2 linked regions of the Homo sapiens genome follow. The protein of the gene in region 2 purifies or fractionates together with the protein of the main gene of each other region. This does not show direct contact. Each region holds a gene or a part of one and is shown on either strand. Other genes may lie near its edges. The genes, in order: C9orf40 and TRAPPC10.

Region 1 (4,147 bases), on a different chromosome or scaffold from region 2:
CAAACCAAAATCGAGGGCTATCCTATGAAATACCTGAGCAGTGCTCTTCAAAAGGTACCTAGGTCATGAAAAGCAAAGAAATTCTGTTTTTAGATTAAAGACGACTAAGGAGATATTATAACTAAATATAACATGTGAACCTGAATTTGACGCTGGGCTAGAAAAAGAATAGGACAATGGTGAAAGTCGAATAGTCCATACATTTTATAATTGTTTTAGGTTTTTGACATATATCCTCTAAGAGTTGTCTGAAGTCATTCTTTCCATGTCCTCAAAATCACACAAGAGAATTTTATCAATGTTAATTTCCTGATTTTCATAAGTGTACTGTGGTAATTTAAGATGTTACATTAGGGAATTGGGGTGAAGGGTTATAACACATTTAAAAACCCACATTTTACCTCAATTTATCCACAATGAAATTTTGCTGTTACCTCAAGTTTACTTAGTAAACAACTTTTTTAAAGGACGGAATTATTTTAACTCTTTCTGTTTTCTATATATAGACTGCCCCTGACTTGATGGTTTGACAGGATTTTTCAGCTTTACCACAGTGTGAAAGTGATATAAATTTAGTACATTTAACTAACCATGGGGTTATGTCCTGATAAACCCATCGTAAGTTGAAAATATCATAAGCTGAAAGTTTCAATTCCAATTTCTATCCTGAAACTTCTAGAGGCAGTTAAAACTTTAACTATAGGCAGCATGTTTATTCTAATGATTTTTTTTAACCTACCTTAAGGTTATTATGAGAACTAAACAAGATGATGCAAGTAAAGTACTTATAACATTGCTTGACAATAAACAGTCTCTCTGAGGTAGATACTATTTATTATTTCTCATTTTACAGGTGAGAAATTTGAGGCTTGGAGATGAAAAATAACTGGCTTAAAGATACATAGGTAGGAAGTGGCAGTACAAGACTTTGAACCATGTCTGACCACAATGCAATACAGTTTGTCTTCTGTTCTAAAGCATTCTTATTAATGTCAACCCATTCTTAAATCCTTCATTACACAAAAAAAATCAAGTTTTTCTCTTTCCCTCTCAATGGCATTTACCATTTGTCTTGAATTTTGGATCTAATGTCATCAACAACAAAAAATGCAAGCAAGAACCAGTTACTCAATTGCAAAACCAACATTCTGGATGCAGTACAAAAGTTAGTTAACTTAATCACTGATACTCACATCACAAATTGCTTACTTTATTTCTTTAACAATGAAATAGTAATAACACAATAATTCAGTTGTAACAAAGCCACCAACAGAGCAAAACAAAAACAAAGCTAATTAAGAAGCATTGCTTCAGCTCAAATTAGTTATCTCCTTTAAACAGGAAAAACGACCATTAGTCTACTGGTTCTCAACCCTGTCTGCACATGAGAGGAATGGAGGGAAACAGGACAGGTGTTTAAAAAAATAGTTATATCCAAGACCCACCTCAGAACTATTAAATGAGAATCTCTCAAGAGTGAGGCCCAGGCAAAGATTTTTAAAGTGCTGTCAGTGTTGAAAACTACAGGTCTAAAGTAATAAGGAATAAAACCATGCCTCGAAGCAATTCAAAACCAAGAAGCTGATTATACAATAAATTTTTTCCTCTAATCCTGGGAAAACAGGGGGAAGCAGGCACCGATTCAGTTTTCATTTTTCTTTATCCATCTTCAGTTGCCCATAGTAGAGCTTAACCAACATCAAATATTGGAAGCTTTGCAAACACGCTACCCAAATTGAAATTATCACTACTTTACATTTAGAAAGCTCTTTTAAAACAATAGCTTTTACAACAATCCCGCCCATCTTAAGTTTGCATAGATGTTCAAGTCAGCTATTTGTTCAACTAACAGAGTCAATAGAATGTATTAGAAAGTACTTTATTAACAAGTTATTATAAAACAATATTCATTTTATATACCACAAATAAACTTTTTGGTGCAGATAGGAGGAATATTTGAGTTTTTCCCACCTATTTCTAAAACTGCTAGAATTTCTTTTTATAAGATCAGTACCTTCAATTCTAGAATTTAAACAAAACTTTTTGCTCTAAGAATGCATACATAAAATACTTCCCCTACAACTGTACTCTATCCTTGACAAATCCTTATTAAGAGGTTCAGTAGTAACTGTAGGTATTTAATGTCAGAACAATCTTTCTTCATTTCTCAGGTTTGGAAATATAACTTCAAGTATGGAAAATAACTTTTCCCTTAAGAATACGAGAATTCACTTAGAGACATCTCCTCAAATCAGCCAATCCCACTGCTTCGGCTCCTTACATCAGGACTCCATGTCAACCTCAGCCCCTTCATTCCTGCCCTGAAGTGTTGCTTCTGTCAGGGTGTCTTCACTTAAATCTTCAATGTCTGCCAGATCAATAGGAGGCAAAGGATTCCTCCAGTACTGGAAGGTATTATACTGCCAAAATTCTTCATTGTGCTTTAGAGAAAAAAGAGAGATCAAAGAGCATCAATAGCTTAGAAAAAATTAAGTTTTTTTCAGAAAACAAATTTGTTTTAAAGGCAAACTCATATAAGATTTTGTAATCTTCTATTTTGTATTTTTAACAAATATACATTTTAAATTTTGTCTCATCTAAGTACTTCATGTACTCGATGAAATCTGTGCATTTTAATATTTACAATTTGTGAAAGTATTTGTTAAATTTAAAGGAATTTCCTCCAAGAGCATCTCTTTCCACAGTTTTTCTCCCATTTTTCACCTAAAGAAAATTATCTAAAAAGTCTTAAAATTTTTTATCTTTCAAGAAGGAAAAGAAGAATTTATTTTAAAAATACAAACACAGACACACTCCTTATAACTTACTTTTGGTCTTGTTCTTAAGGTCTGGTATTTTAGGAGATTTACTTTACATAGGCCAAAATATTTTGAAATCTTCCAAAAAGTATTAGGTTATAAACATGACGAATAGCAAGAAAATGTTAAACTGATCATTTTATTAAAGATAAAAAAAAAATCAATGCTCAGTAGCCACATGACCTAGTGGCTACTGTGCTGGACAGCACAGGTCTGTAAGAAAGTCTCATTAGGAAGTTCACTGTCTTCTATGCTGAGCCTTAAAGAATTAAGTTTTGGGGGAATTTCTTAATATTGGGATAAACACACAATAAGTCAAAAGATATTAAGAAAAATTTCACTTTAATATTTTGGAAAATCTACTGTACAAATTATCTACTTATAAACATGGACCAAAAAAAGGTCTTTTAATTATGTTAGTAAAACATAGTGACTAAGGGCACACAAACTTTGCCACCAGACAGACCTGGGTTTGCAAGATAACTCCACCGCCCACTAACTCTGATCTTGACCTTATTGATAAAATGGAGGACTGTTGTAAAAATTCAGGCTTGGCATAGTAATTGCTCAATATTGCTAGGTATTATATCCCAATAAGCCTATGAATCATTAATCACTGTCTCCTTAGAGCATTTCTGCTTACTTTCTGTTAAGAATATCTAACAGTTGGCTGGGCATGATTACACCTGTAATCCCAGCACTTTGGGAGGCAGAAGGATCGCTTGAGCCCCAGAGTTTGAGACCAGCCCTGGCAACAAAGCAAGACTCCATCTCAATTTATGAAAAACAAACAAATAAACAAGAAACTAACAGTTAACACTGACAGAGCAGTGAATCTACATAGTGACACTAACATGAAAAAAATACATGAATATTTAATGAATACCTGATTTTATTTCTGTAGTCAAAAAACATCTGAAACAGGAAATACCCTGAAGTTCCGGGACAGAAATGACGTAACATTATCCTGCCTAGATTGTATTCTCAATGTAGAAAAAAGGTATTTGAGGTAGTATTTCCTAAATGAAGTCCCAAGGGTGAGGGCTGGGACTTAAGCCCTATTCTGAGCACAAAAGAAACCAGGCATTTACTGTATTGAACTGTTTACTTCTTTTTGTTATATTCAATTTTCCCTTGGTAATCAGGTATAAAATCCTTAAAACAAAAAGCCTGTGTCTTTGGAGGCAGGAAGGAGAAACAGAAGCTGGAGAGAGCATGATTGTAAAAGAGAAGCGCCTCCAGAACAAATCTAACAAAAAGAAGGAATAGGAGTGTTACTGGGCTTTCCTCAAAAGAGGGCCTGACAGTGGCTCACGCCTGTAATCCCA
Region 2 (3,817 bases):
TTGGATCTGCACACGTCTACGCATAGAGTGGGACCAGTTTCAGATTTAATTCTTCTAAAAAGAAGAATTCATCCATCCAGCCACCCGCTTACTCAGGAGCAAGCCTCGATCCAGCCTCAGGGCAGCCGGAGGAGCTGCACAGGAGCCTTTACTCATCAGCAGTGCAGCTGTTCTATCTAAAGGCTCAGTCGCAACACATACTACATCATTTCCGTACACTCTGGTTCTCTGTTGAGAAGTTTATGCTCAGGTCTACACAATGTTTACCTGCTGGGACTGCGTGTTCAGTGGTACTAGTTGCAGGTCGGTACTATCACCGGTATCTACAAGATAACTATCTGACAGCTGAAAGTCAAGTTCTGACAAATTCTGGACACAAACTTGAACATATTTCCTAAAGTGGAAAAACAAAAAGTATTATTTTGATATGTAAGAACTTTATTAAATATATCTTAGCTTTGTTAAGGAGACCCTCTCTGCCTGGGGAATCAAAAAAGCAACAAAGCAAAGTAAGCTAAGTTGTTGCATAAGTTTCCCTTCAGATTTCACACCGAAAAGTGCCAGAAAATAAACCTTTTTGGCCGGGCACGGTGGCTCACGCCTGTAATCCCAGCACTTTGGGAGGCCGAGGTGGGCAGATTATGAGGTCAGGAGATTGAGACCATCCTGGCCAACATGGTGAAACCCCATCTCTACTAAAAATATAAAAATTAGCCAGACGTGGTGGCACGTGTCTGTAATCCCAGCTGCTCGGGAGGCTGAGGCACGAGCATTGCTTGAACCTGGGAGGTGGAGGTTGCAGTGAGCTGAGATCACGCCACTGCACTCCAGCCTGGTGACAGGGCGAGACTCCATCTCAAAAAAATAACAAATAAAAATAAATAAAAAAAGTTTTTAAAGAGGCAAGTTCTGTGAGGCAATGGAAGAAAGAATATAGTTTCTGACCAGCCTTATTAAGTGATCATGGCTGGTCACCCTCACTGGCCTTTGGGGAGCCACGGGGAGACAGCAGCAGCCCTCCTCATTACAGGTGAAGACTCTCCATTGAGAGATGATAGGCGGGGCTTATATCCATTTCCATTACATGCAAAACTTTGAAAATATTAATAATAGTTACTATTTTTTGAGACAGAGTCTTGCTCTTGTCGCCCAGGCTGGGGTGCAATGGCACGATCTCAGCTCACTGCAACCTCTGCCTCCCAGGTTCAAGTGATTCTCCTGCCTCAGCCTCCCGAGTAGCTGGGATTACAGGCGCCCGCCACCATGCCCGGCTAATTTTTGTATTTTTAGTAGAGACGGGGTTTCACTATGTTGGTCAGGCTGGTCTTGAACTCCCGACCTCGTGATCCGCCTGCCTCGGCCTCCCAAAGTGCTGGGATTACAGGCATGAGCCACCACGCCCGGCTGAAAAATAATTTTTTAATAAGGTTCTTTTAGAGATTATTGATGTTTTTAACTATTAATATCTACAGTTCCCTTTGCTGTGATTTGAAGGGGAAAAAAGCTGCTAGTATAATGTTCCATTCTAAACATGGGTCTGACGTTTTTGTTTCCAAATTATCCACACATCATCAATGGATAAAAAGTTGTGGTGAGAGGCCAGGCTAGCATCCCGAGCCCATTGATCAACGCTAGCACCGTCACTAAGGTAGGACACCTGGACACCGTGGGCCTCCCGGTGCAGTCAACAGGAAGCACACAGCCCCGCCTGCCTCAAAGCAGAACTGGAGTCTACTCAAGCCTTTAGGGCAGCTGTTTTCCACTGGGGCACGTCCGCCCCACCCAGAGGACACTGGGCAGTGTCTACAGACATCTGTGGCTGCCACACCTGCAGGTGGGGAGTGCTACTGGCATCTCATGGGAGAGCCTGGGGTGCTGCTCAACACCCTACAGCACACAGGAAAGCCCCTACAACAGAGTTATCTAGCCCAAAATGTCACTAATGCTGAGCTTAAAAGCTCCTGTTCTAGAGGTTGCAGGCAATTGACAAGAAATACAGGGACAGGAGAACTAGTTAACAAATCCAGCCAGATCCAGAAAGGCGGGCGTCCAGAGGAAACCTGGCCTGCAAGTGAACAAGTCGATGGCTTGAAAACAGGGAAGAAAGGATGAACAGAGATCTAGTGGTCTGATGGAGATTTTGGACCCCAAGTCACACAAAGCAACCATAAAAGGTCATTTTCAGACAGTTGGGAAAACCTGAATATGAACTGGATGTCACAGGACACCAGGGAATTGTGGATTTTAAGACACAAACAATGGCCTTGTGGTCACATAAGAAGACATCCTTGGTCACCACGAAGGCCAGTTTTGAACATTAGGAACCTCCACTTAGAAGAGTCTGGGGAAAGAAGCCAGGGCCCGCACGCTACGCCTCCGTTACCGTGTTCCTGAGGACAGGAGGCTGTGTGTGGTCCTGAAGGGTACGCTGAAGGTCAGTGCGATGACTGTGGAGTAGATGGACCACGGGCAGTCAATCGACACCTGAGGAGGAAGCACAAAGACACTCTCAGACCACTCGCCGACGGACAGCACAGCCACCACCACTGCTGCCCAGACTCACCTGCAGTGCCCGCCCACGCCCTAGACATTTTATTATGGCTTCAACCACTCATTATCCAGGAAGCAAAGCCTTACCCAACACATACACAAACCAACGAGAAACAGGAAGCTATGCATACAGACAAGAGAAACGAACGCAGAACTGGCAAGACATGCACACATCACCAGAGTCACCTCAACGGCGGAAGAGCACAGCCGTCCTCTAAGCAGCAGACCCACCTGCTGCTCCCATACACGCAGGGCCGCGGAGCCATGCATGTTGCAATGTGCACAGGGTTTTGACAAAGTGCTTTCAGTCATGTATTTCCAGATGACATTAGCCAATCAGTAACTACTCCATAGTTAATGAATTATCTAAGCATTTAATCCATGTGAGGCTGAATATGTAACTGAAAACCAAATCAGTTTAGGGGCACAGTGAGGACAAAGCTATTACATCCCTTAAGGGCAGGAAGGAAGCAAGTCTCAAGCCTTATTCCCCACAGGGAAGAGGTGAATACCCCAGCACACAGCGTGCGTGCCGCCAGTGCCAGGGAAGAGAGGATAACACGGCACATAGCACAGGTGCCACCAGCGCCAGGGAAGAGAGGATAACACAGCACACAGCACAGGTGCCACCAGCGCCAGGGAAGAGAGGATAACACGGCACATAGCACAGGTGCCACCAGCGCCAGGGAAGAGAGGATAACACGGCACATAGCACAGGTGCCACCAGCGCCAGGGAAGAGCGGGGTAACACGGCACACAGCACAGGTGCCGCCAGTGCCAGGGAAAAGAGGATAACACGGCACACAGCACAGGTGCCGCCAGCGCCAGAGAAGAGTGGGATAACACGGCACACAGCACAGGTGCCGCCAGCGCCAGGGAAGAGAGGATAACACGGCACATAGCACAGGTGCCGCCAGTGTCAGGGAAGAGTGGGATAACATGGCACACAGCACAGGTGCCGCCAGCGCCAGGGAAGAGTGGGATAACACGGCACACAGCACAGGTGCCACCAGCGCCAGGGAAGAGCGGGATAACACGGCACATAGCACAGGTGCCACCAGTGCTGCGCGCTCCTGCTGAGCTAAGCGCCACCTTCGTGAATGGTGAACGTCTGTGTGAGTTAAGGGAAAGACACTTCCTCAGGTTCTTCAAAAGCTGAACATTACAACATTCGTCTTCAGGCGTGGACTTGTCTGGTGACTCCGTGCTTTGGAAAGACGGCATGCCTTGCCCTTTGCCCCCGCTGCTCTTGGGCGTATACTGCGGC

The links.
Region 1: the proteins of TRAPPC10 (region 2) and C9orf40 purify together in Homo sapiens (co-immunoprecipitation; one large-scale study listed by IntAct). This does not show direct contact.

The regions. Positions count from the first base shown.
Region 1 is NC_000009.12:74,945,766-74,949,912, forward strand, and holds the end of C9orf40 (uncharacterized protein C9orf40), read right to left. Parts: intron 2,442-4,147; coding exon 2,283-2,441; 3' UTR 818-2,282; downstream 1-817.
Region 2 is NC_000021.9:44,088,500-44,092,316, reverse strand, and holds part of TRAPPC10 (trafficking protein particle complex subunit 10), read right to left. Parts: intron 2,485-3,817; coding exon 2,384-2,484; intron 395-2,383; coding exon 268-394; intron 1-267. UniProt on the Homo sapiens protein: Specific subunit of the TRAPP (transport protein particle) II complex, a highly conserved vesicle tethering complex that functions in late Golgi trafficking as a membrane tether.